2 separate regions of the Homo sapiens genome follow, and region 2 is linked to region 1. The links come from fine-mapping of genetic effects on gene expression. Tissue or cell type: monocytes after LPS. Region 1 holds a variant in brackets; the other region holds the start of a gene. All regions are shown on one strand. Distances are between the middles of the regions.

What was found. PIP is the estimated chance that this variant, and not a neighbour inherited with it, causes the effect.
Region 2: RPP38 starts here. The variant in region 1 is fine-mapped to the expression of RPP38 in monocytes after LPS (Quach 2016, PIP 0.95). The same link has a PIP of 0.9 or more in monocytes.

The regions. Positions count from the first base shown.
Region 1 is chr10:15,162,270-15,164,956 of GRCh38, forward strand. All of the region lies in intron 1 of NMT2 (N-myristoyltransferase 2), which reads right to left. Among named protein-coding and RNA genes, the nearest start is that of NMT2, 5.1 kb to the right of the region's middle. The variant G/A (reference allele first, on the strand shown) is at 1,455.
Region 2 is chr10:15,096,150-15,098,836 of GRCh38, forward strand. RPP38 (ribonuclease P/MRP subunit p38) reads left to right here and starts at 1,206. Exons shown (of 3, transcript NM_183005.5): 1 at 1,206-1,617. RPP38-DT (RPP38 divergent transcript) reads right to left here and starts at 1,170. Exons shown (of 2, transcript NR_160789.1): 1 at 938-1,170; 2 at 1-716. RefSeq lists enhancers at 751-1,322, 1,624-1,713, 1,774-1,913 and a silencer at 1,124-1,483.

The sequences.
Region 1 (2,687 bases):
AAAGTGTACAGATAATCCACAGAAGAAAAAAAGAATGAAAACTAGACATATTCTACCAAAGACAGGAAATAAAATACAGAAATTTTTGAGTACCAAGAAAGCTTATAAACAAAATTCAAAGACTGAATATGATCTGAGCTGTCCAGTATGATAGCCACTAGTCACATGGAGCTATTTAAATTTAAATTAATTCAAATAAAATAAAAACATTCAGCTCAGTCACACTTGTCACATGCAAGTGCTCCATGTGTTGATGACTGCCCAACTGGATTACTATCACCCCAGAAAGTTCCAGCACACAACAATAAGAGTCAGCGAAACATACATGGTAACAAATGCACCCAGGTACAGTAAGATCCCAGCGATGTTAAACACACACACATATTAAAAAGTGAGTTCATTAAACTATCAGTGGTGACAGCTCTGGGAAATAAGGTGACCAGGGGCTTTCACTCTACCTTATATACCTTATTGTTTGATATATATATATATTTTATTTATATATATATTTGATTTATATATCTCTATGTATTTGATATTATATATCTGTATTTGATATTTATATATCTCTATATATTTGATATTTATATATCTATATATTTGATATCTTTTGATATTTATATATGTGATATATATAAATATATACATATAAGAGAGAGATATATATATATGTATATTTTTAGACAGAGTCTCATTCTGTTGCCCAGGCTGGAGTACAGTAGTGCGATCACAGCTCTCTGGGCTGAAGCAATTCTCCCATCTCAGCCTCCCAAGTAGCTGGAACTATACGCATGCACCACCATGTCTAGCTCATTTTTTATTTCATCGAGATAGGGTCTTGCTATGTTCCCCAGGTTGATCTTGAATTCTTGGCCTCAAGCGATCCTCCACCTTGGCTTCCCAAAGCACTGGGATGACAGGCATGAGCCACCACACCTGGCCCTATTGTTTGATTTTTGAATAAGCGTATTTTTAAAACGTCATTAACATGTTTTCAAAGAAAACAACAATCAATTTCTTGAACTTGGAGTAGAACTTGGTTCTGTTAAAATAAAGTGATTTTAACTAGTATAGATGTATAACGTACATTTGCACTAACAAACAAAGATGGCAAAGTATGTGTCCTATATTTAGACAACCCTGGAAAAAATTTGTTCTGGGCCAAAGGGTGACATCACCCATTCAGATGCAAGTCTTAGCAGACACTTGATCATTTCAAACAGTAGTTCTTGATTTGAGGAGGTCCCTCAGGCAAAGACTGTCGTTAATCTATTTTTCCATTTAGATTTATACAGTTGATAACAGATCAAATTTCAGAAAGGGCAGCTTTGAGTTATCCCTAAATTTTCCATAAGAAAAACTTATTGCAAGTCATAATGTTTCTGCATTTTCCCACTGATACCACACAGCTGACAAAGGGGAAGTTCCCAACTCAATTTCAACAACAGACATAT[G/A]AAGTCAGATACAACAACATAGTGCCCAAAGAAGAACTTCCTTTTTTTACCCCCTAAATTGGGGATGGTAGAAGACAGATTATGTTCTTTGTTAAAAGAATTCCAAAGTTTTCATCTTTGTCCAATACCAGATCTTCAATCTTTCTAAGAAAAAGAACTCTTAAAAACGTCTTAGGCCGGGGACGGTGGCTCACGCCTGTAATCCCAGCACTTTGGGAGGCCGAGGCGGGCGGATCACAAGGTCAGGAGATGGAGACCATCCTGGCTAACATGGTGAAACCCCGTCTCTACTAAAAATACAAAAAAATTAGCCAGGCGTGGTGGCGGGCGCCTACTGTAGTCCCAGCTACTCCGGAAGCTGAGGCAAGAGAATGGCGTGAACCTGGGAGGCAGAGCTTGCAGTGAGCCGAGATCGCGCCACTGCACTTCAGCCTGGGGGACAGAGCGAGAATTGGTCTCAAAAAAAAAAAAAAAAAAAAAAAAGGTCTTAACCCTATTTCATGTCTACCCCAGGGACTAATTTAGTCATGTATCTGCCAACAAAAACATACTCACCTATGTTTATTTTGGTTCCTATATAAATCTTCTTAGTAGCTGCTTCCAGTGAATATTGAGGGAAAAGCTCTCTTAACGGAAAGCTATGAGAAACATCTATTTTTCTAGGAAGTATATGCTCTCTGTAAGTCAATGTTGGTTAAGCAAGGGGACAGATTTGGTTTTGTTACCAAAGTTCAACACGAATTTTATTTGACTCTGTCTCCAACAATGGACCATAACATTAGCTCAGTAAGAGATCATGACCAATACCAAATGTATTTCATAACTGGAGAAGCCGGACATCAAAAGGACAGCGAGAAGACAGTGGGTTCTAAATAATTCTTCAACAATTTGGCCTGTCCTCAATGTCCCCAAAGCCCTTCAGAAGAAAGTAACAGAAGGCAAAAACACAGCAAAATGAGGGAAGTATTAAAGATCCTTGAGCATCTTAACCTCAGATCCAACGGTGAAAGCTCCTAGGAAATTCATCCTCCAGGCCGGGCACCATGGCCTGTAATCCCAGCACTTTGGGAGGCCGAGGCCAGGGGATCACCTGAGGTCAGGAGTTCAAGACCAGCCTGACCAACATGGTAAAACCCCATCTCTACTAAAAATACAAAATTAGCCAGGTATGGTGGCACACGCCTGTAATCCCAGCACTTTGGGATGCAGAGGTGGGGATCACCTCAGGTCAGG
Region 2 (2,687 bases), 66 kb before region 1:
CTAAAAATACAAAAATTAGCTGGGCTGGTGGCCCGTGCCTGTAACCCCAGCTACTCCGGAGGCTGAGGCAGGAGAATCACCTGAACCTGTGAGGCGCTGGCTGGAGTGAGCCAGGTTCGCGCCATTGCACTCCAGCCTGGGCAACAAGGGCAAAACTCTGTCTCAACAACAATAATAATAATAAATAAAAGAAAGAAATCACAGAAACTATACCAGAAAATAGGATACAAAACCAACAGTGAGGAGATTGAGAAAAGGAGGCAGATACGTAAAGAGGAAAAGGAAGGGGGCCCAAGTAAGGCCGGAAAAAGCGGGGAGAAGGAGGAGGCTCATTAGGTCAGAAGCAACCTGCCGTCTTCTAAGTTCTGGCCAAGGGTAGATCAACAGATCCAGATTCCTGAGCTTTAAAATGTTATTCGGCCGCTTCATCACTTGTCCCCGACTTTGCAGCGACTCCGATGGTAGCCTGAGTCTCCATTGCTTGGAGCAGCCACAGTGGACACTGGACGGGATATTCTGTGCAGCTGTTGCTGAACTCAAGGCAACTCTTACTGCCTTTCTCTTTTCGGGCTCAAGATTCCCTGCATTATTGCCCATAGGCATGTGTTTTACCCCATACTCCTTCTCCCTTTTATCTTGATTTTCGCGGTGCTGGGGAGTCTGCAGGGATTCCATGGCGACGGGCTCACTGGGACAGGGGCTGGGGTTGTGCGTCCCTGAGGCAAGGCAAATACAGAAAAGCGAATAGAGACAGAGGGCTAAGATTCCAAAGCACTGAAAGGTAGAAACTGGGTTAGAAGAGAGAGGGGAGCACAAACGCCCGGAGAGAGCGAGCCCTCGGGATACCATTGGCTATAGGCTGGCCTCCGAACAACTGGACGGTCCAAGTCCTGAGCGTCTGGTTACCCGGGCAACCGCATGGTCTCGCGATACATACCTCGCGCCTGCGCACTGCCCCTGTAGCGGGGGTGGGGGGACCCGGTCCGGAGACTCCACCCCGGGGCCTAAACTCGAGTCTAAAAGATTGGGCCTCGTTGTGTCGTTTCCGGGTCGCGCGACGCTGTGGGCCGCTTTCCCCTCTCCGGAGTGACCTAACACAGGATAACGAAACCTGCACTGCTCCGAGCGCTTCCTCCCCGGCCCGTCGCGTCTGCGAGGCGAGGCCGGGAGGCGAGGGCTCTGCGCACGCGCGGCGCAGGCGCACTGGGCGCCGGTGCTGTTGCCTTCAGGTGACCACGGATTCGCCATCGTGAGTTCCAGGTGGGCGCGCGGGGCCCACGTAGGGCAGGAGGCCAGCCCCGGGGGGATCGGGCCCGGGACTCTGCGGAATCTGGAGGCCGAAGCCCGCGCGCACGCAGGGTCTCTGCTGCTTCCCCAACGCCTGTTGCGTGGCCGCAGGACCCGCCGCCCTCCCGGTTGGGCCGCCCAGTCCCGGGCCGGGCGCGTGCACCCAGAGCTTCCGCGTTTCTAGTCCGGCTCCTCTGCTGGATTGCAGCGCCGGCTGGGCACCAGGAGTACAAAGCGAAAACCCCCGCCGGCCCTTCTGTTCTCCACGGTCTCCAAGGAGACACGGACAACAGAACAACACTTCCGTGTGCTAAATAGTAAAGCACCAAGGTACTCGATCCAGGGGCGGCGTGCAGTGGGGAGGTGAGCTTTGGGTCGGCCGTCGCCCCTCGGCTACCGGCGGGATCCAGAAACCGGGAGTCACCACCAATACCGTTCTCAACTTTACTTCCAGCTGGTCACTACTGTGTCGGGAGATTCTACCTTCTTTTCCGACTAACATGTATTTTTCTCCAGTCCTTTCTGCGGCGTCTCTAGTGCAGGCCACCGTCATTTCTAACCTGGACGACTCCAGGAGCGTCTTTGCTGCTCGGGGACTCTTCCTTTGCCCAGATCCACAAAGATCTATAACGTCTTTCTAATCACGACACCTCTGCTTTAGATGTTAAAGTTGCTTCACACTGGAACGCTTGCAAAGGTCTTCATTATCTGGTCCTTACCCACCTTTCCTAGTTTCTCACCGCTTTCTCTAGCATCTCTGCCCCAGCCACATTGAACTTATTTGAACGTGTTTTTTTTTTTTTTTTTTTTTTTGAGACATAGCAGTCGCCCAGGCTGGAGTGCAGTGGCGCGATTCCGGCTCACTGCAACCTCCGCCTGCCGGGTTCAAGCGATTCTCCTGCCTCAGCCTCCCGAGTAGCTGGGACTACAGGCGCCTGCCACCACGCCCGGCTAATTTTCGTATTTTTAGTAGAGACGGGTCACCACGTTGGTCAGGCTAGTCTCGATCTACTGACCTCAAGTGATCCGCCCGCCTGGGCTTCCCAAAGTGCTGGGATTACAGGCGTGAGCCACCTCGCCAGCCAACTTATTTCTTTTAATACTGAGATACCTTTCTTTACTCCATACTTCCTTTGGTAGGCATTGTTTAGATGTAGGTTAAGAGGTCCGGCCCGGCGCGGTGGCTCACGCCTGTAGTCCCAGCACTTTGGGAGGCCGAGGCGGGCGGATCACAAAGTCAGGAGATCGAGACCATCCTGGCCAACATGGTGAAACCCCGTCTCTACTAAAAATACAAGAATTAGCCGGGCGTGATGGCCCGTGCCTGTAGTCCCAGCTACTCGGGAGTCTGAGGCAGGAGAATCGCTTGAACCCTGGAGGCGGAGGATGCAGTGAGCCGA